Homo sapiens: one gene and its partner. The protein of the gene in region 2 binds, or shares a complex with, the protein of the main gene of each other region. Each region holds a gene or a part of one and is shown on either strand. Other genes may lie near its edges. The genes, in order: SLC9A1 and CHP2. A codon is read from its position in the direction of its gene.

Region 1 (10,741 bases), on a different chromosome or scaffold from region 2:
CTGGAAGGGACCACAAAGATCAACTGATGGGTAGGGAGGCGTGACTGGTCCAAGGACAGAGGGAGGTAGGAAGAGAAGCCAGGTTTTCCTGACTTCTAGACTGATATTGTTGCCATGACACCATCTCTGCTCTCCAGCTGCCCAGGGTCCCGGGCACAGCACTTGGGTGGTGACAAAGCAGGCCAGGCCAAGCTGACCTCATTAGCACTAGAGATACCAGGCCTGCAGGGACAAACTTCTGACTGCCTAGAGTGGGGTCTCTGCAGTCATGCTGTCATCCCACCAGCAGCCACTGACACTCAAAGTGTGTCTGCCAGCCCTGAATGCCCTAATGTAATGCCAGGTGTGGTGGGCAGGTGAGGGGATCGGGGACAGGAGGCAATTTATAGATTGCACTTGTGAGGTCTCCTCCTGGTCTCACACAGTCAAATGACATCACTGTCACTTCAGCTTCTTACAGCAAATCAGACGACATTTCATGACTCAATTGGTGTGGTCAAATTGAGAGTCTTAACCATTTCACAGGTGAGGGAGACCTGCAGAAAAAGGCCTCAGCTATTCAAGGTCATGCATTTATGTCAGAATCAGTACACATGGTTCCCCTTGTCCAGTCCTTGATTTCTCTCCAGGAAGCTAACTGCCATCAAGGTATAGGTGCTGATGGCTTAGTTCCATGTAAGGCTCTGCTACTGTGACCAGCTTGGCACAAGAGCCCTGCACCAGGAACCCAGCTCCTGGATCTGTCAAATTAGAGGCACCACTTCCCTCCCGCTGCATGTCCCAGAGCCTGCCTCACACCAGCCCGGCAGCACCGCTCAGCTCCTGCATGTCCTTGGGAGAGCTGGAAGGTTTCCTGCCAAATTCCCAAACCCAAATCTCAGGCAGAGGGGACAGCAGAGTCCCAGGACCTCATGCCTTCCACAGCCAGCTGGGGGCAAGCTGAAAATGCAAAGGCAGTTGTCAAAGTCCCCCTGAACACCACTTTCAGGGACTTCTGGGCAATGTAGGCTCCAGTAAGCTCCCCCAATCACTCAGCAGAACAGAGTGCTCAGGCCTAGCAGGGAGACCAATACTCTGAGAGCAAATAAGTTGTCTGTTTCCTTCTCCCCAAAAGAAGGTTTCAAAGTCTCTTCAGGCCTGAACATCCCTAGGCTCCCCCATCTACCTCATCTACTTGATTGAGCAGCAGGCCAGACAGCACCCTGAGACACAGCCAGGCAGCGACCTGGGGGTGAGCTGGGGTCAGACCAAGCCTCAACCTCCTCTACTCTCCCTCCACTTCCAAAACAGACTTCAGAAATTTCCAGGGCCCCTTGTCCCACAGATTCTATAAAGTATGGCATTCCTGGGCCGGAAATTGACTCAGGGGCTCCTAACTAGCCTGGACAAGCAAAGCTGACAGATAACATTCTGGAGATGAAGGAAAGGTGGGAATATGGGGATCCCCTGTGTTCCACCACACTTGTAAGTTTCCTGTGCCCAGGTCTCCACTATGCTTAAACTCCTCAAGCAGGCCAAGTAGAAATATACTCCATCCTGGAACACGCTCCAGTGAAGCCTGTCATAAATTGCACTGGTTGCTGTTGACAGAGCAGAATGTGCCACTCGCCAGAAGACACTCCTTTCTGTCTCACACACAGCGGGGTGCCTGGCTCCCCTGGGGGTCTGGCCCAGCCAGAGGAGACTTGCCAGTCGTGGAAGCCTTACTGAAGGGACCTAGGATCAGAGGCATCCCATTCTCTAATCCTGCTCTCTTCTGTGCACAGTGCTGGCTCCAATCTTGGGAAGCCTCAGATCACAGATCAGAAGCCACAGAACTGGAGCCTGAGAAGGACCAAGGTGGCAGGATGGAGACTGCCTACTTTATGGGGGTAGTTCAGATCCTTACTCCTGGACAGCCTCAAATGGTGCGAGATGAGGCAAGAAGCTCACCAGTCTGGTGGCGGCCGCAGCATCGGAGCAAACGGGACTTACCTATCTTCATGAGGCAGGCCAGAAGGATCCAGAGGGAGATCTCGAAGGGGGTGCGCACGTGTGTGTAGTCGATGCCCAGGACTGGAAAGGCCTTGCGCGGCTTCATGCCATGATCAGTGACGGAATGATTAACAGGGCGGCTCTCTGGGGTGACCTCCGGTGGAGCGGTGGTGACATCCCCAATCGAGCGTTCTCGTGGTGGCTCTGAGCTTCGAATGGTGCTGGCAGTTGGGCTGAGCTGGAGGCCATGGCTCCTGAGAACAGGCAGCAGCCCCACCAAAGCAACCACCACGAGTAAGGAAGGGAAGATCCGATGTGGAGAGAGGCCACAGATGCCAGACCGCAGAACCATGGTGCTGCTTCCAGAGCCAGCCTCGACCTTACCCAAATGAGAGTAAAACCGGGCACATAGGTAGCAAAGGGTCAGCAAGTGGGAAGAGAGACTGGCGTAGTCTCTAGGAAAAGTTCATGTTTTAGAGAGGCATTTCCATGGAAGCAATTTTCTGGGGGTGGAGGGAGGCTGGGTTTGCAATCTGGAACTCCAAAGTGGGGAAAGGGGGCAAGGACCCAGGAACGACCACGAAAGGAGACCAAAAGGTCTGGAACTCCGGGCCTGGGAAGGGGGAGGACGGATGTGGGAAACTGAGCCCTAGGGATAGAGGAAGGGGCAGGATAGGGATAGTGCAAAGGAAAGGAAGAAGGAAGGCTGGGACCTTTGGCTGAGGAAAGTGACTGAGGAGCTGGGACTCTGGGCTGTGGGCTAAAGGAAGGGGTAGGGAGCCTGAGCTAAAGGAAGGGGACCGAAGGGGGTGAGAGCCAGTCCAGGAAAAGGAGAGAGGGGGCTGGGAGCCCAGGCTGAGAAGGAGTGAAACCGGGAAGCGGCCGGGAGCTTCTCCACCCAGAGAGGGGCAGGGGTCCAGGCGCGCCGGGCTGAGATTCCGGGGAAATGGAAAGAGGCGGAAGGCAGGCGGCCTGGCGGGAAGGCGCCTCGGCGCGGGCTGGGGGCGGCTCGCGGTGGGCCAGCAGCAACACGCCCCTCCTCGCGGCCCTGGCGCGACGCGGCGCTCCGCCCCGGCCCAGCTGCAGCTCCTCCTGGTCCAGCTCCAGAACTAACCCTAGCCCCGGCCCCGGCGGCAGCAGACTGAAGCCTAGCTGAGCCCGGCGCTGTCACTTATAGGCACCAGCGAGCAGCCGGTGCGGCGGGCTAGAGAGACCGTCGGCACCCGCCCAGCGCAGCGGCCCCTGTCGCCGAGGGAAAGAAGTATCGCGTAGGAAGAGGAAGGAGAGTCAGAGATGACAAAAAAAAAAAAAAAAAAAAGTCCTGAATATACAGAGAACCTCACTAACGCGAGTAAAATGCCGACTACTTACAAAACGATTTCACGTCCACATCTGCAGTCTCATAAGGGCTTTCGAATAATCCTGTGAAGAATGTATTATTAGTTTATGTATTTAGTTACCGTGTGACCTTGAGCAAGTTACTTAACCTGTTTCACAACTTTCTCATCTGTTAAGTAGAGACAGTAATAGTGACTATGTCAGAGGGATGATGTAATGACTGAGACAATCCGTGTAAACTATTTGGAATGCACCCTGGCACATTATTACAATTCCACTTTTACAGATGAGGAAACAGGTGAAGAGAGTCCCCTGGCTACTATGCAAGTAGTTGTATTGCTTACTAGGGCTGCCGTAACAAAGTATCACCCCAAACTGGGTGGCTGCAACAACAGAAATTGATTGTCTCACAGTTCTGGAGGCTGGAGGTCGGATCTAGGTGTTGGCAGGGTTGGTTTCAGCTGAGAGCTATGAGGGAGAATCTGTCCCATGCCTTTCTCCTACCTTCCAGTGGTTTGTTAGGACTATCTGGTATTCCATGGAGTTCTCCTGGTGTCTCTGTCTCTGCGTCCAGATTCCCCGCCCACACTTTATTTTTATTTTTATTTTTTTTGAGATAGAGTCTGGCTCTTGTTGCCCAGGCTGGAGTGCGGTGGCGCCATCTCAGCTCAATGCAACCTCTGCCTCCTGGATTCAAGCGATTCTCCTGCCTCAGCCTCCAGAGTAGCTGGGATTACTGGCACCCACCACCACGTCCAGCTAATTTTTGTATTTTTAGTAGAGATGGGGTTTCACCATGTTGGTCAGGCTGGTCTCGAACTCCTGACCTCAGGTGATCCACCCGCCTCGGCCTCCCAAAGTGCTGGGATTACAGGGGTAAGCCACAACCCCCAGCCAGATTTCCCCTTTTTATAAGGACACCAGTCATTGGATTAGAAATCCAACGTAATTACCTCATCTTAACCTGAACATCTTCAAAGACTGCATCCTAATTAGTCCATCTTCATAGGCACTGGGCATTAGGACTTCAACTTCTTTTGCCGGGACACAATTCAACCCACAACAGTGGCATGCTTTAAGTAGTGGAACTTAAATTTGAACCTATAGTTTGGTTGAAATTGGTGAGGTTCAAGGGATCATGGCTGTACAATGGAATCACTGGAAAGCTTTTTTAAAATACCATTGTCTAGGCCGGGCGTAGTGGCTGACGCCTGTAATCCCAGCACTTTGGGAGGCCGAGGCGGGCGGATCACGAGGTCAGGAGATCGAGACCACGGTGAAACCCGGTCTCTACTAAAAATACAAAAAATTAGCCGGGCGCAGTGGCGGGCGCCTGTAGTCCCAGCTACTCGGGAGGCTGAGGCAGGAGAATGGCGTGAACCCGGAAGGCGGAGCTTGCAGTGAGCGGAGATCGCGCCACAGCACTCCCGCCTGGGCGACAGAACGAGACTCCGTCTCAAAAAAAAAAAAAAAAAAAAAAAATTAGCCGGGCGTGGTGGCACATGCCTGTAATCCCAGCTAGTCAGGAGGCTGAGGCAAGAGAATCACTTGAACCCAGGAGGCGGAGGTTGCAGTAAGTCAAGATTGCACCACTGTACTCCAGCCTGGGCAACAGAGCGAGACTCTGTCTCAAAAAAAAATAAATAAATAAAAATAAATACCATTGTCTGATAAAATTAGCTGTGCTTGGTAGTCCTAGCTGCTTGGGAGGCTGAGGCAGGAGTATCATTTGAACCTAGGAGTTTGAGACTACAGTGAACTATGATCCACCACAGCACTCTAGCCTGGGCAACAAAGGGAGACCCTGTCAATCATAGTAATCATCATCATCATCATCTTTTGTAAAATATCATTTTCGGGGACCCACCGTCAGAGATTTAGATTCAATTACTTCAGGGTAGTGCCAAAGTATTTTTTTCAAAGGCTCTGATATACAACTAGGGTTGGGAGGTATAGAAATCACTGAAATGCTGTCCCTGTTTTGCAGAAGAGTACATTAAGGCCAAAACAGTCAAAGTGTCTAGCTCAAGGTCACATCACAAGTACTTGAGATTCAATTTAGTTTAACAAATGTTTACTGGGCCTCTTGACAGGGCTTTGTGCTGGGCTCTGGCAACACAGAGATAAGCCAGAGGGAGGAAGGAGGTGGTAGGAATTGGGAGGGGGCATAAAGTGGACATAATGAGGGCTTCTAGAATGCTGGTAATGTTCTATTTCTTTACTGGGTGATAGCTACAAAGGTTACAGCGACGTAGTTGTTTCGTGATAACTCACTGAAGACTCAAGATGTGTGCACCTTTTTCTAGGTATGCTATCCTTCCATGGAAAAATATATTAAAATAATAATAAGCTAGCAGCAGTGGCTCATGCCTGTAATCCCCGCAACTCAGGAGCCTGAGATGGGAGTATCAGTTGAGGCCAGGAGTTTAAGACCAACCTAGGCAACATAGGGAGACCCTGTCTTTAAAAAAAATAAGTAAAATAAAATAATAATATCCAGGTGCAGTGGCATGCACCTGTAGTCCCAGCTACTTGGGAGGCTGAGGCAGAAGAATCACTTGAACCCAGGAATTTGAGGCTGTAATGCACTATGATTGTGCTTGTGAAATAGCCACTGCACTCCAGCCTGGGAAACATAGTGAGACCCATCTCTAAAAATTAATTAGGCCAGGCACAGTGGTTCACGCCTGTAATTCCAGCACTGTGGGAGGCTGAGGCAGGCAGATCACTTGAGGTCAGGAGTTCAAGACCAGCCTGGCTAACATGGCAAAACCCTGTCTCTACCAAAAAATACAAAAATTAGCTGGGCGTGGTGGAGCATACCTATAGTCCCAGCTACTTGGGAGGCTGAGGTGGGAGAATCCCCTGAACCCAGGAGACGGAGGTTGCAGTGAGCTGAGATTGTGCCACTGCACTCCACCCTGGGTGACAGAGGGAGACTCTGTCTCAAAATAAATAAATGAATATAAAAATAAAATAATTAATAAAGTGATATGATAGTAACTGAAGGTGGCAACATTAAACTGAGTTCTCTCTCTCTCTCTCTTTTTTTATAATCCCATGCCTAAACTGAGTTCTCTGTACCTCACATTCTCCAGGCACAAATTCCAGCCACCTGGGAAATGACAAAAGAGACTTCAGAGAAGGGCAGGGGACTTGTGTCATCTGGGAGCAGATGAAAGGAGAACATCAGCTATAATGAAAGTAACCAAAGAGCATTTCGAGCAAGGATCAGAATAATAACAATAATGCCTCACAATTGTTCAGCCCTTTAGAGTTCACAACCAAGTGCCCCAGGTTTATCAATGATCCAAATGCTAGGCTGGGTGCGGTGGCTCATGCCTGTAACCCCAGCACTTTGGGAGGTCGAGGCAGGTGGATCACCTGAGGTCAAGAGTTTGTGACCAGCCTGGCCAACACAGCGAAACCCCGTATCTACTAAAAATGCAAAAATTAGCTGGGTGTGGTGGCATGTGCCTGTAGTCCCAGCTACTTGGGAGGCTGAGGCACGAGAATCACTTGAACCCAGGAGGCAGAGCTTGCAGTGAGCTGAGATCACACCACTGCACTCCAGCCTGGGTGACAGAGTGAGACCCTGTCTCAGAAAAAACAGTACCTATTATTCTATTTTTTTCTTTTGAGACAGAGTTTCACTCTTGTCACCCAGGCTGGAGTGCAGTGGCGATCTTGGCTCACTTGCAATCTCCACCTCTCAGGTTCAAGTGATTCTCCTGCCTCAGCCTCCCGAGTACCTGGGATTACAAGCGGCTGCTACCACACCCAGCTAATTTTTATATTTTTGGTAGAGATGGGGTTTCACCACGTTGACCAGGCTGGTCAGGAACTCCTGACTTCAGGTAATCCACCTGCCTTGGCCTCCCAAAGTGCTAGGATTACAGGCGTGAGTCACCGCATCTGGCCAAAGAGTAGCTATTATTCTCATTCCCATTTTACAGGTGAAAAGACAAAGGCCCAGAGACATAAAGCTATTTGCCCAAGGTCACACATCTATTAAGATGCAGATCCATGCCTGGCACAGTGGCTTACACCTGTAATCCCAGCACTTTAGGAGGCCGAGCCGGGCAGATCATTTGAAGTCAGAGGTTCAAGACCAGCCTGGGCAACATGGTGAAACCCCATCTCTACTGAAAATACAAAAATTAGCTGGGCGTGGTGGCAGGCACCTGTAATCCCAGCTACTCAGGAGGTTGAGGCAGGAGAATCACTTGAACCTGGGAGGCAGAGGTTGCAGTGAGCCAATAAAATTAAATTAAAATTTAAAAAAAGAAGCAGATCCAAGACTTAAGTCAGGTTTCTAACACCTAAGTCCAGCACCCTTTTAAAACATCACAGGTTCAGTGTAAAAAGAAGAAAAGAGGGAAAGGATGGGGCTGGTGGAGTGACTTTCCACAGGTGCCCTGGGGCCAGAAGCCCAAGACCTACTGTTCTTTCCAGTCTTGAAGGCAACGTTCACTGGTGTGCTCCCCACTCTCTAATTCTCCCTCACTCAGGCCTCAGTGAGTCTTTGGGTGCCAGTCTGGGACGTGGTAGATCCCAGGACAACCAGGAAATGCCAGCCCTGAGATCCTCCACGGCCTGGAGAAGGTTATAACAACAGAACAATATCAGGAAACAGGCCTTGGGAGAAACCACATGGGAGAGCCGATGGCCAAGGCCCAGCCTGGGCAGGCAGTGTAGAATAATGGATAGTTAAATGCTGGGACTGCCGAACATGGGTAGCCACATGGTCTCCTTTCAGTGCTCTGGCACCACCGCTCACTAGTCATGAGACCCTGGGCAAATCAGTGCCTGTTCTACAGCTTCTTCCTCCATAAGGGGGGACAACAATAGTGTCAACCTCATGGGGCTCTCATGAAGATATTAGCCAATGTATGCGAAGCATTTACCACTGCCCCCAGCAAGTACCACATATATTTACCATCATTCTATTTATTTACATGCACCGAGGACCTCAAGAGTAGACTTTTGATGTTGGGAACCACATGAAGTTCTGCCTTCAGTCACAGAGAAAATTGACAGGCTGGAAAACAGACCCTCACATCCGTGAGATGGGTCCCACCATCAGACCAGCTGCTATGAATTTAATATTTGTAAATAAATCACATTGATGTGTATTGTATGTTAAAAGCCTTATCTTCTTCTTCCTCTTCTTTTTTTTTTTTTTTTTTTTTGAGACTGAGTCTCGCTCTGTCGACCTGGCTGTAGTTCAGTGGTGCAATCTCAGCTCACTGCAAGCTCCGCCTCCCGGGTTCACGCCATTCTCCTGCCTCAGCCTCCCGAGTAGCTGGGACTACAGGCACCTGCCACCACGCCCGGCTAATTTTTTGTATTTTTAGTAGAGATGGGGTTTCACCGTGTTAGCCAGGATAGTCTCGATCTCCTGACCTCGTGATCCGCCCGCTTCGGCCTTAAAAGCCTTGTCTTCTTAAAAATAATCAGTCAAGGCCAGGCGCGGTGGCTCACGCCTGTAATCCCAGCACTTTGGGAGGCTGAGGTGGGCGGATCACGAGGTCAGGAGATCAAGACCATTCTGGCTAACACGGTGAAACCCCGTCTCTACTAAAAATACATAAAATTAGCCGGGCGTGGTGGCGGGCGCCTGTAGTCCCAGCTACTCGGGAGGCTGAGGCAGGAGAATGGCGTGAACCCGGGAGGCGGAGCTTGCAGTGAGCTGAGATCGCGCCACTGCACTCCAGCCTGGGCGACAGAGCAAGACTCTCATCTCAAAAAAGAAAAAAAAAAATCAGTTAAAATACATAGCAATATTTGTAACCATGTTTGAGCAAGTCATTTTTTGTTTTTTGTTTTTTGTTTTTTTAAGATGGAGTTTCACTCTTGTTGCCCAGGCTGCAGTGCAATGGCGCGATCTCAGCTCACTACAACCTCTGCCTCCTGGGTTCAAGCGATTCTGCTGCCTCAGCCTCCCGAGTAGCTGGGATTACAGGCGCCTGCCACCATGCCCAGTTAATTTTTTGTATTTTTTGTAGACACAGGGTTTCACCATGTTGGCCAGGCTGGTCTCGAACTCTTGACCTCAGGTGATCCACCTGCTTCGGCCTCTAAAAGTGCTGGGATTACAGGCGTGAGCTACCACACCCGGCCAAGTCCTCATTTTTTAACCATTCCAGGCCCACACTGCTTTTGACTCGGAGAGGCCAGGTCTCTGCAGACCCTTCCCCTGCAGATCCAGGACAGCCTCAGGAAGCCTGGACCCTGGGTGGCATCTCCCCCTGCTTAAGCCATGTCTGCTCCCCAATCCCCTCCTTGAATCCTTTCACTAAAAGTGCCTGGAGTTTTATGGCACAAAATGCATGGCCCTAGGAAAGAATCTGCTCAGCCCCTATTAGCTGCGCATTATGAGCAAGTCACACCTTGTTTCTGTCTCTCGCTGTGTTCATGTATATGAAAGCTGGGTGGAGTCACATTACTTGCTTTGTAAGGTTTATTGTAAGGATGAAAAGGCCACTGTATGTCAAGCATAGTTCCTGGTACACAGTCAGCACGCAGTGACTGGGTTCATTTCCTTCTTTTGTTTTTTTTTTTTTTTGAGACAGAGTCTTGCTGTCACCTAGGCTAGAGTACAATGGTGCAATCATAGCTCACAGCAACCTCAAACTCCTGGGCTCAACCGATCCTCCAGCCTCGCCCTCCCGAGCAGCTTGGACTACAGGTACATGCCACCACACCTGACTAATTTTTAAAAATATTTTTGGTAGGGATAGGGTCTTACTATATTGCCCAGGCTGGTCTCAAACCCCTGGTCTTGATTGATTCTCTTGCCTGGGCCTCCCAAAGTATTGGGATTACAGGGGTAAGCCATTGTACTCAGCCGCTCCTTCTTTCATCATAATGTCACAGCCCAGCAAAGCCTTCTTCCAGTCTCCCCGGCACTCACTTCACCACTGCCTCCTTCTATTTCTCAAACACTGGCAGACACACTTCTGCCTCAGGGTCTTTGCACTTGCTATTCCTTCTGCCTGGAACACTCTTCCCCAGATATCCACATGGCTGGTTACCTGACCTCCTTCAAGCCTTTCTGCGAATCTCGCTTCCTGACATGGCCTACTATGTTATAATCCTATGTAATAGTGACACTTCCCCTGCCTGGCCACCACCACTACCACCCAGCCCCTTCCCCTGCTCCTTTTTTCTTCTTTGTATAGCATGTTTCACCTTCTCACATACAGTATAATTCTCCTATTTGTTACTTTTATTCTTTTTTTTTTTTTTTTGAGACAGAGTCTTGCTCTGTCACCCAGGCTGGAGTGCAATGGCATGATCTCGGCTCACTGCAACCTCCACCTGTTGGGTTCAAGCAATTCTCCTGCTTCAGCCTCCTGAGTAGCTGGGATTATAGGCGTGCGCCACCATGCCCAGCTAATTTTTTTTTTTTTTTTTTTGAGACGGA
Region 2 (10,602 bases):
TGAGAGCTACTCCTAATGTCATTAAATCCTGGCACTTCCACCCTGCCCTTTATACAGGCTGAATATGTGCAAAGCCCTGGAGCAAGGCATCACAGTGCTTGCAAAAAGAAGCCACTAGCATGTAAGGCTGGGTGCAGTGGCCCATGCCTATAATCCCAGCACTTTGGGAGGCCGAGGTGGGTGAATCACTTGAGTCTAGGAGTTCAAGACTAGCCTGGGCAACATGGTGAAACCCCACCTCTTTTTAAAAAAAAAATTAGCTAGGCATGGTGGCATGTGCCTGTAGTCCAAGCTACTCAAGAGGCTGAGGTGGGAGCATTGCTTGAGCCCGAGAGGCAGAGGTTGCAGTGAGCCAAGACTGCCACTGCACTCCAGCCTGGGTGACAAAGCTAGACCCTGTCTCAAAAAAAAAAAAAAAAAAAAAGGAAAGAAAGATAAGAAAAGAAAGAAAGAAAAAGAAAGAAAGAAAGAAAGAAAGAAAGAAAGAAAGAAAGAAGGGAGAAAAAAGGAAAGAAACCATTGGCATGCAAAGTAATGGGAAATGTCTAGCAGGTAGTGTGCAGATAAATGTTTAACAACTGGCTTTCCAGGAGGAAAAAGCCTTAACCTGTTGCAGTTACCAATGTCTGTGGTGTAAATATTCCTGCTATAGCCAGTTTCAAGCTGCTAACATATCATTGAAAGCAGAGTTGAGATGTTATGAGCACAACTGGTTCTCATGTGTTGATGATACAAGACAACCAAAGACCAGCTCTGGGAGGGAGAAAAACAGCAGGGCAATTACAGTGTCTCCCACAGGTGCAACCAGAGAGCTCTGCTGCAGACATAGAGTCTCATAGTTTTATGGGACTTCCTGCTCCATTCCATCTTATATCAATGTTTGAACATCTTACCATGAAAACAAGCTTACTCTTAGAATCTTCGAATGCATTCACACTCTAGGAAGGTATATATTGTTTATTATTTTTACATCGTCTCTTCCCTACTGCATCAAGCCCCATCATCCTAGCATGCACCCAGGAAATCAGCAAAAACCCATTTAAGAGTCCAGACTTCAAGGGTCCCTCACAGTAATGGGCATCTCTTGTTTTGCCCGAGCAGAGCAGACCACTCGTTTCCCCTTATTCTGCTAATTGTATTTCATTTTCCTTTAAGCAACCACCTTTCACCCCATCCTGAATCCTCAGACCTTATTTCCCTGGCTCTAGGAATTAGCACATGACACAGGCCTGGCCACTCAGAGTGTTTCATTCCCCTAGAAGTAGAGATGAGACCCCAAACGGGTCAATGACACTCTCCACTTGGAATTATTGGAATAAGTAAATCTCTTCCCACTGGGTTACTGGGTTAGCAGGATAGAAGCCTGGAGCTGATGGTGGTCATCTCCATCACTAGGAAAGAGCCTTCCTGAAAATCAGGCTTACAGACAGAAAAAGCTGAGCTGGGAGATGGAGAATAACTGGAGCCTGATGACATCATTTGTGCCCTTGGATCCAGCTGTGCCTAAAGGCAGATACTTCTGGACTTTTTAATTACCTGAATTCATAAAATTTCTTTCTGACTTAAGTCACTTTGAGTTGGGTTTTCAGTGATTTGCAACTAAAATATTGCTGGCTGATTCACAGCTCTGAGACCAAATGAGATAGACCTGGTGTGGGGTCTGTGGTCTGTTAGGAACCGGGCTGCACAGCACAAGGTGAGCGGCAGGCGAGCTGAAGCTTCATCTATATTTACAGCCACTCCCCATTGCTTGCATTACCGCCTGAGCTCTGCCTCCTGTCAGATCAGCAGTGGCATTAGATTATCATAGGAGCCCAAATCCTACTGTGAACTGCACACCAAAGGATCTAGATTGTGCACTCCTTATGAGAATCTAATGCCTGATGATCTGTCACTGTCTCCCATCACTCCCATATGGGACCGTCTAATTGCAGGAAAACAAGCTCAGGGCTCCTGCTGATTCTACATTATGGTGAGTTGTATAATTATTTCATTATATATTACAATGTAATCATAATAGAAATAAAGTGCACAATAAATGTAATGCACTTGAATCATCCCAAAACCATCCCCTGTCACCCATCCGTGGAAAAACTGTCCCTGATGCCAAAAAGGTTGGGGACTGCTGAGCTAGACTTTAGTACACATCCTTCCAGCTTTCTTCTCTTGGCCCTAAATAGAGTTAGAAACGAAAATACAGTTTATTGTCGCCCTGCGTCCATGCGTCCATGGGGGCTTTGGATGAATTCCAAGGAGATACTGGTTGCAGGAGCAAGCCCAAGGCACAAACGGAGTCACTTCAGGATCCGGATGCTCATTTTTTGCTCAACGTCCATCTTCTCTAAGGACTGAGGGAAAAACAAATGGCAGGCAAGAGGCTTGACTCTCAGCTCTCCATGCTCCCAACCTCCTCCCCCAGGGTTCTACCCATTCCAGAGACCCCATCATTCCCAGGCAACCCCTATCTTTCCGCCCTCCTCCGTTGAACGTTTCCCAAGTCTGTCTGCCCCAGAACTCCTGATCTCAACTCCCCAATCCCCAAGGGCACTCTGACCTTGGTGAACTCCACGAAGGACACAGCCCCATCCCCATCTTCATCAGCCTCCTGCACCGTGCGGTCAGCGATGTTCTCCAGCTGCTCTTCTGTCACCTGTACCCCAACCATCAGACGGAGAACCTGAGAGATGAGTGAAGAGGCAGCCATAAGGAGGGGGCACGAAGGCTGCAACTCCCCATCTCCTAAACCTTGCCCACCTCATCCCAAAAGTTATTGCTAATTTTATAATCCATCCTTCATCCATTTTTCACCATATCCCCCAATAATTTTCCCTACTGCTTCAACAACCAATCTCCTATCTCTCCCTCACCATCCTGCACTACCCTCAAAATATGCTCAAACTCATTACCCAACTTTATCACCCAACCTCCATCCATCCTCCACACCATTCTCCACCTTAGCCACTAAGGGTTTCTAATTCCATCCTCATTCCATCACATCTGTTCCAGAGTTTCTCAATCTTGGCACTGTTGACATTTGGAGCCAGGTAACTCCTTGTTGGAAGAGGCTCTCCTGGGTATTGCATGATATATAGCCACATTCCTGACCTCTACCCACTAGATGCCAGTAGCACACTCTCTCCCCCATTGTGACAACAAAAAGCATCTCCAGATATTGCCAGATATTCACTCAGGGAGCAAAATCACCCCCAGTTGAGAATCACTGATCTATTCCCAACCTCATAGTCAACTGCTCCCCACTCCGACTCCCAACAAACCCACACTCTAACTGCACCCATTCCCATTTCCCAACCAATACCCCAATTATCTGCGCCCCAGTTCCCCAATCATCCCACCCCATCTCTCACACCATTGCATTTAACCATCCCATCCTTCACACATCACATCTCTTGCTCTCGCTTTCTGCCAACCTGCAGCATCTCATGCCTGGAGATCTTCCCATCGCGATCCAGGTCATAGAGCTGAAATGCATCTGGGGAGAGGGTGGGAGGGGGAAAGGAAGGTAGGTCTTCCCTGGCTCTCTTCCAGCAGCCACCTTCCTTCCCCCCACCTTGGAGGAGGGGGGAGGTTGTCAATGCCCTCAGGAAGGGAGTGGGAGATCCCTGGAGCCTGTCCCTGGTGTGGGTACATCTGCATTCTCACTTGTGCAGGTCCTCACAAACTCACAGTGAAGTTTGTTCCTTCTGCTGTTGAGAGGTTCAGGTTTCTTGGGGTCTTGGGTTTCTGTGTCCTCATCTTCTACAGGGCGAAAATGAGCCAAGACCCTGACAAAGCCTGGGAAATCCACTCGCTGGCTCCTGGGGAGACGGGACAGAATGGAAAGAGGTGGTGGTCACCTTGGCCATCACTTTGCCTCCGTCTCTAACCTCCCCTCCCACCCACTCACACACCGGTTTTCCCGCCTTCACCTCCCCACGCCCAGCAAGCCTCACCCATCGGGGAAGAAGCTTTCTATAATTCGGTCTCCCAGGGGGTTCACGGCGAGCGCCCCTATCTGCTGGAGATCCATGCGGCTGCAAAGCCAAATTTCAAAGAGGGTAAGGCAGAGATGCCAGACGGAGGGTCAAAGAGGGACATGGAGTCAGAGAGACAGAGGCCAGAAGTTATGAGGCCGGCTCCCCCTCACCTCAGGTAGCCCTTCTTATTCCTGTCCAGTGCCCGGAACCGGTGGTGCAGGCGGAGCAGGCTGGCTTGGGAGACTGCGGGAAGGAGAGTGGGGTGGGGGTGTGTGACTCTGCAGGGCCAGCTCCAGAAACCCGCCCCAACAGGCCAGGAAGATGGGCCAGAACAGCGGGGGCTGGCTGGAAGGGGCGATCATCCCGGGGAATCAGGGGTTGAGCTGGCCGGGGCGGAGGGAGAGTGACACGACCCCGCGAAGATCCAGGTTCAAGACCCGGGCGGCTCGCAACCTCCCGAAAACCAAAGAACCAAAGCCATCCCTTCCAACCGCCGTCAGCTCTGCCTTCAGCTTCGAGCCGGGCTGGAGGACACCTGGGTGCCTGGATTCCTCTGGACTCCGACCCCGTGAACCCGGATCCTCCCCAGACTTGGAGGCTGGGACCCCTAGGTTAACCCGCCCCTAACCCAGCGATCCCAGGCACAGGGGCCTTGGTCTTCCAGCTCCGGGGAGCCCCGGACCCCAGACTTGTAAGTTCGTCCATCCTTCAACCCAACCCCTTCCCTAGCCCCAGACGCCTGGGTTCGCCCCGTCCCCTCCGCAGCCGCCGACGCGGGCGCACTCACAGCCGGTCTCTCGCCGAATACTGTCCCCGTCGGGAATGACCGCGGCGTGGGAGCTGCGCGACCCCATGGCCGAGCTGGAGGCGGAAGGGCCGGAGCAGCCACCCGGACCCACGCGTTCTCTCCTCCCGCCGGAGAGGCGTGGCCGCCCCAGTGGCCCCAGGGGGACGAAGGCCACAAGCCTGGCGCGCGGCCAAGCTCCAGAACCCCGGCGTGCCTCTCCTCCCACCCGCGACCCGGGCGAATGGAAAACAATGTGCAGGGTGGCGGGTCAGAGGGAGGCTGCGAACAACGGGCTGTTTCAGCTCCGAGATTTTGCGATCCGCACGGGAGAGGCTGGTCGAGTCCCAGGCCCCGCGTTTCCACGCCTCCCCCGGGGCCGGTTCCCACGGTGCGCCCTGACACCTGAGCCACCTCCTCCTTCGCGGGCCCCGGGCGCTCCCAACCCCAGGGCGCTCCCCGGCGTCGACGCTGAGGAAGCCTGGGAGACCTGACCTCCTCTGTAGAGACCACGCCCTGCTGGAAGGCGGGTGGCCTATGGGGAGGGAATCCTGGGGGGAGGGGGGAAGAGGCATCGAAGAACTCCCAAAGACGGGGAAGTGGGGAGGGGCGGCGAGATGAAGGGTGTGCGTTAGGTTAAGTGGAAAGAGCACTGGTTTGGGAGTCCTTGTTGGAATCCCAGCCGTGCCCGTGACTCTGGGAAAGTCAGTAAATCTTGGTTTCATCCCTTTTGTTCGGTTCACATTGCCTTATTGTTGTTTAATTGAGCCAATGCTTAAAATTCAGGAGATTTAACCCAAAATCCACATTCTTGGCTTTTCCTGAGAAATCAGAAGTTCTATCACCACCAGGCCCAGAGCTGTCTTCTGGCCACAGTCCCTCCAAGCCCAATTCACTCCCTTAGGTACCTACTGATCCCGTAGAGCTCCAGACTGGGAATGACTTAGTCCTCTGAACAGCCCTCCAGAGCCATGGGACTCCTTGGCCCAAGAGAGGGTTACAGACATCACTGGGACTAGGCTTAAAGCAAGAATGACAACAAGGGCTCTTGTTTACCACGCTTTGCTAAGCACTTTACGTGCATCCGTTCACACATTCCTTGTAGGCCCTGCTGGGCTGCTTTCTTCTAATTTTACGTGGTGGAGGCTGCCGGGGGCAAGTTGTGAACTAATTATGTAAAGCGTGCATTCTCAGTGCGGTCTCTATCTCACCCCAACGGGGCAAAAAATAAAACATATTTTTTATGTACAAAGCACAGCATACATACAGCACATAAATAGATATACAGTATAGCTGTGATATTGAAATTTCAGGGCAGACGTGGAGGCTCATGCCTGTAATCCCAGCACTTTGGGAGGTAGAGGCAGGAGGATTGCTTGAGCCCAGGAGCTCAAGACCAGCCTAGGCAACATAGTGAGACCCCATCTCTACAAAAGAATACAAAAAAAAAAAATTAACCAGGTGTCGTGGCACATGCCTGTAGTCTCAGCTACTTGGGAGTCTGAGACAGGAGGATCACTTGAGCCCAGGAGGTTGAGGCTGCAGGGAGCCATGATCACGCCATTACACTCCAGCCTGGGTGACAGAGTGAGACCCTGTCTTGAAAAGAAAAGAGGCCGGGCGCGGTGGCTTATGCCTGTAATCCCAGCACTTTGGGAGGTCGAGACGGGCGGATCACCTGAGGTCAGGAGTTTGAGACCAGACTGACCAACATGGAGAAACCCAGTCTCTACTAAAAATACAAAATTAGCTGGGCGTGGTGGTGCATGCCTGTAATTCCAGCTACTCGGGAGGCTGAGGCAGGAGAATCGCTTGAACCCGGGAGGTGGAGATTGAGGTGAGCCTAGATCGCGCCATTGCACACCATCTTGGGCAAAAAGATCGAAACTTGGTCTCAAAAAAAAAAAAAGAAAGAAAATAAAATTTCATGGGGTAGGGGTGAGGGTGGGGAAATTAAAAAGACTAGGGGAGGCGTTGATAATGAAAAAAAAACAGGTCGAGAAACTCATTTGTCAAGGGACAAACACTAGAAGTGTCCACTTTTGAAAGTATCTTTAAACCGTTTCCCCCATCATAATTGCACATACATACACAAATTTCCCAGGGGGGAAAACATGCAAGCAGTTCATTGCAAGGGCTCAAGTTCATATCCACCCTGGAGAGAGAGAAGCTGAAGAAACAGTCTATCCTCCAGCCCCAGGCAGAGGCCTGCATCAGATAAGTCTTGAAAATATTGATCTAAGAAGTGCTTGCTTCTTTCAGATACCCCCAAGGATTAAGCAACTGGCATAAGGAATGCTTGATTCTCTTTCAGACTCCCCCCAAAGACTAAGCATGCGGGAAACCACACTCCTCCCTAATGAAGCCCAGCAATCACTGCAACCCACAGCTGTGAGTCAGGCTGTGCATGTAGTTTGGGTTCAGTTCTGAACCCAGGAGGAGATGAGAGCCCTAAGAAGCTGTGATAAGCACCGCAGGCCAGCTTGGGATGCTGATCTTGGAAAGGGCTTCTCCAGCCTTAATATTGGAGTCAGTGCTACACCAAAGTAAATTAGGCCGGAGAGTAATTAGGAACTCCCATGCACACATCATACACAAGCTTTTAAGAGAGGGCTGGACCAGGCACAGTGGCTCACACCTATAATGCCAGCCCTTTGGGAGACTGAGGCGGGCAGACCATGAGGTCAGGAGATTGAGACTATCCTGGCTAACACAGTGAAACCCCGTCTCTACTAAAAATACAAAAAATTAGCTGGGTGTGGTGGCAGGCGCCTGTAATCCCAACTATTTGGGAGGCTGAGGCAGGAGAATCACTTGAACCTGGGAGGCAGGTGTGGCAGTGAGCCAAGATCACACCACTGCACTCCAGCCTGGGTAACAGAGCAAGACTCCATCTCAAAAAGAAAAAAAAAGAAAGAGAGAGAGAGCAGGCTATGCTAGAACTCATTTCTGTTTCATGTACACAAGTGAGACTTAAATCAACTTCACAGTTTTTTCAGGTCATTTAAGCGGGAAGATGCTTTGGGGAAAATTTTATCTGCAGAATCTGTTAGACTAGAGTCAGGAGGAATATTTGGTTTTTGCTTTTCAGCTATGTAAAAGTTGCTAGTCATTCTTTTTTTTTTTTTCTTATTTAATTTTTTGAGACAGAGTCTTACTCTGTTGCCCAGGCTGGAGTGCAGTGGCGCCATCTCAGATCACTGCAACCTCTGCCTCCTGGGCTTAAGCAATTCTCCTGCCTCAGCCTCCCTAGTAGCTGGGATTACAGGCATGCACCACCACACCTGGCTAATTTTTGTATTTTTAGTAGAGATGGGGTTTCACCATGTTGGCCAGGCTGGTCTCGAACTCCTGACCTCAAGTGATCTGCCCACTTCGGCCTCCCAAAGTGATGGGATTACAGGCATGAGCCACCACGCCTGGCCGCTAGTCATTCTTGGTGAAGGTTCAACTAGAAGAATGAACATCCAGGAATAGTCAGGAAAATACAGAACAATTAGCACTCAATAATAAAAAGATAAATGACCCAACTTTTTAAACGGGCAAAGGACTTGAATAGACATTTCTCCAAAAAAACATATATGTTTAGCCAATAAGTACATGAAAAGATTCCCCACATCATTCGTCATCAGGGAAATACAAACCAACCACAATGAGATATCACTTCATACCCACTAAGATGGCTGGAATTAAAACAAACAAAAACAAGTCTTAGTGAGGCTATGAAAAAGTTGGAAGCCTCATTCATTGCTGATGGAAAAGTAAAATGGTTCAGTTACTGTGGAAAACAGTTTGAAAGTTTCTCAATACACTAAACAAAATTACCATGTGACCCAGCAATTCTGCTCCTAGGTATACACCCAAAAGAATTGAAAATAGGGGCTCAGGCCAGGCACAGTGGCTCACACCTGTAATCCCAGCCCTCTGGGAGGTAGAGGTGGGCAGATCACTTGAGGTCAGGAGTTCAAGACCAGCCTGGCCAACATAATGAAACCCCATCTCTACTAAAAATACAAAAAAATTAGCCAAGCATGGTGGCACGCATCTGTAATCCCAGCTACTTGGGAGGTTGAAGCAGGAGAACCACTTGAACCTGGGAGGCAGAGGTTGCAGTGAGCCGAGATTGCACCACTGCACTCCAACCTGGGCAACAGAACGAGACTCCGGCTCAAAAAAAAAAAAGAAAGAAAGAAAGAAAGAAAGAAAGAAAGAAAGAAAGAAAGAAAGAAAGAAAGAAAGAAAGAAAGAAAATAGGAGCTCAAACAAAAACCTGTAGTGAATATTCATAGCGACACTATTCATAACAGCCAAAAATTGGAAATAAGCCAAATGTTTGACTGATGAATGGATAAGTAAAACATGGTATATTGATACAACGGAATATCATTTGGCCATAAAAAGTAATGAAGTATTATATATGCCACAAAATGGATGAACCTTGAAAACTCTATGCTAAGTAAAATAAACCAGTCACAAAAGACCACGTATTATATGATTGCACTTACATGAAATGTTAAGAATAGGCAAACCCGTAGAGACAAAAAGTAGGTTAGTGATTGCCGAGGGCTAAGGGAGGTAGGTGGGAGTCAGGGATAATAGCTAAAGTGTACAGGGTTTCTTATTTTTTCTTTTTTTTCTTAAGACAGGGTCTCCTATCACCCAGGATGCAGTGCAGTGGAGTGATCATGGCTCACCACAGCCTCAACTTCCTGGGCTAAGATGATCCTCCCACCTCAGCCTCCTTAGTAGCTAGGACTATAGGCACATGCCATCTCAACTGGCTAATTTTTTGTTGTTGTTGTTGTTTGTTTTCTTGTAGAGATGGGATCTCACTATGTTCCCCAGGCTGTCCTGGGCTCAAGCGATCCACCCGCCTCTGCTTCCCAAAGTGCTGGGATTACAGGTGTGAGCCACTGCGCCTGGTCCCAGGGTTTCTTGTTGAGGTGATGAAAATGTTCTACAATCGACTCTGGTGATAGTTTGGTTGCACATATCTGTGAATGTAATAAAATCTATTGCATTGCATGCTTTAAATGGGCAAATTGTGTGGTATGTGAATTATATCTCATTAAAACTTTTTTAAAAGAAAACAGCACAGAGAAGACAGTCAAACTTGACTCTCCAGAGGAAATAAAAGTTGTAACAAGATTTCTGTAGCTGAACCTACAGAGGGATCTTTTTTTGTCTTCTTAAAAACAAACTATAAAACAAAAAAAAAATTTGAAAGAAAAAAGTAAACAAAAAAATAAAAATTAAAAACAGAATAGCCAGGAAAGCTCTGGGACGAAAAGTAATGAGGGTGGGTGACATCAACATCATTAGTCATCAGGGAAATACAAATTCCTCTACCAGGAATAGAGAGGTAAGAAACAGGAATAAAGGGCCAGGCGTGGTAATCCAGAACTTTGGGAGGCCGATGCAGGTGGATCATGAGGTCAGGAGTTCAAGACCAGCCTGGCCAACATGGTGAAACCCCGTCTGTACTAAAAATATAACAACTAGCCAGGTGTGGTTGTGGGTGTGTGTAATCCCAGCTACTCAGGAAGCTGAGGCAGGAGAATTGCTTGAACCCAGGAGGCGGAGGTTGCAGTGAGCCGAGATCGCACCACTGCACCCCAGCCTGGGAAACAGAGTGAGATTCCATCTCAATTAAAAAACACACACACACACACAGAGACAAGAGGCCTTGTGTAGTGGCTCACACCTGTAATCGCGGCACTTTGGGAGGCTGAGGCAGGTGGATCACTTGAGCCCAGGAGTTCAAGACCAGCCCAGGCAACATGGCAAAACTCTATCTCTACAAAAAATACAAAAATTAGCTGGGCATGATGGTGCACAGCCTGT

The links.
Region 1: the proteins of CHP2 (region 2) and SLC9A1 are in contact, whole or in part, in a crystal structure (PDB 2BEC), measured with the Homo sapiens proteins. Residues at the interface, in NP_071380.1 of Homo sapiens: Arg30 (codon at 4,197), Arg34 (codon at 4,185), Leu38 (codon at 4,173), Leu51 (codon at 4,021), Ile54 (codon at 4,012), Ala56 (codon at 4,006), Leu57 (codon at 4,003), Asn60 (codon at 3,994), Pro61 (codon at 3,991), Leu62 (codon at 3,988), Ile66 (codon at 3,976), Phe70 (codon at 3,964), Phe83 (codon at 3,790), Leu87 (codon at 3,778), Phe90 (codon at 3,769), Tyr118 (codon at 3,685), Ala119 (codon at 3,488), Leu122 (codon at 3,479), Tyr123 (codon at 3,476), Met136 (codon at 3,437), Val139 (codon at 2,677), Leu140 (codon at 2,674), Met143 (codon at 2,665), Ile156 (codon at 2,626), Arg159 (codon at 2,617), Thr160 (codon at 2,614), Glu163 (codon at 2,605), Ala164 (codon at 2,602), Phe177 (codon at 2,563), Ser180 (codon at 2,348); in NP_003038.2 of Homo sapiens: Ser517, Ile518, Asn519, Glu520, Ile522, His523, Thr524, Gln525, Phe526, Leu527, Asp528, His529, Leu530, Leu531, Thr532, Gly533, Ile534, Glu535, Asp536, Ile537, Cys538, Gly539, His540.

Annotation. Positions count from the first base shown.
Region 1 is NC_000001.11:27,152,009-27,162,749, forward strand, and holds the start of SLC9A1 (sodium/hydrogen exchanger 1), read right to left. Parts: upstream 3,118-10,741; 5' UTR 2,327-3,117; coding exon 1,975-2,326; intron 1-1,974. UniProt on the Homo sapiens protein: Electroneutral Na(+) /H(+) antiporter that extrudes Na(+) in exchange for external protons driven by the inward sodium ion chemical gradient, protecting cells from acidification that occurs from metabolism.
Region 2 is NC_000016.10:23,749,276-23,759,877, reverse strand, and holds CHP2 (calcineurin B homologous protein 2), read right to left. Parts: upstream 4,853-10,602; 5' UTR 4,829-4,852; coding exon 4,762-4,828; intron 4,218-4,761; coding exon 4,145-4,217; intron 4,032-4,144; coding exon 3,951-4,031; intron 3,816-3,950; coding exon 3,685-3,815; intron 3,491-3,684; coding exon 3,429-3,490; intron 2,678-3,428; coding exon 2,555-2,677; intron 2,349-2,554; coding exon 2,295-2,348; 3' UTR 943-2,294; downstream 1-942. UniProt on the Homo sapiens protein: Functions as an integral cofactor in cell pH regulation by controlling plasma membrane-type Na(+)/H(+) exchange activity.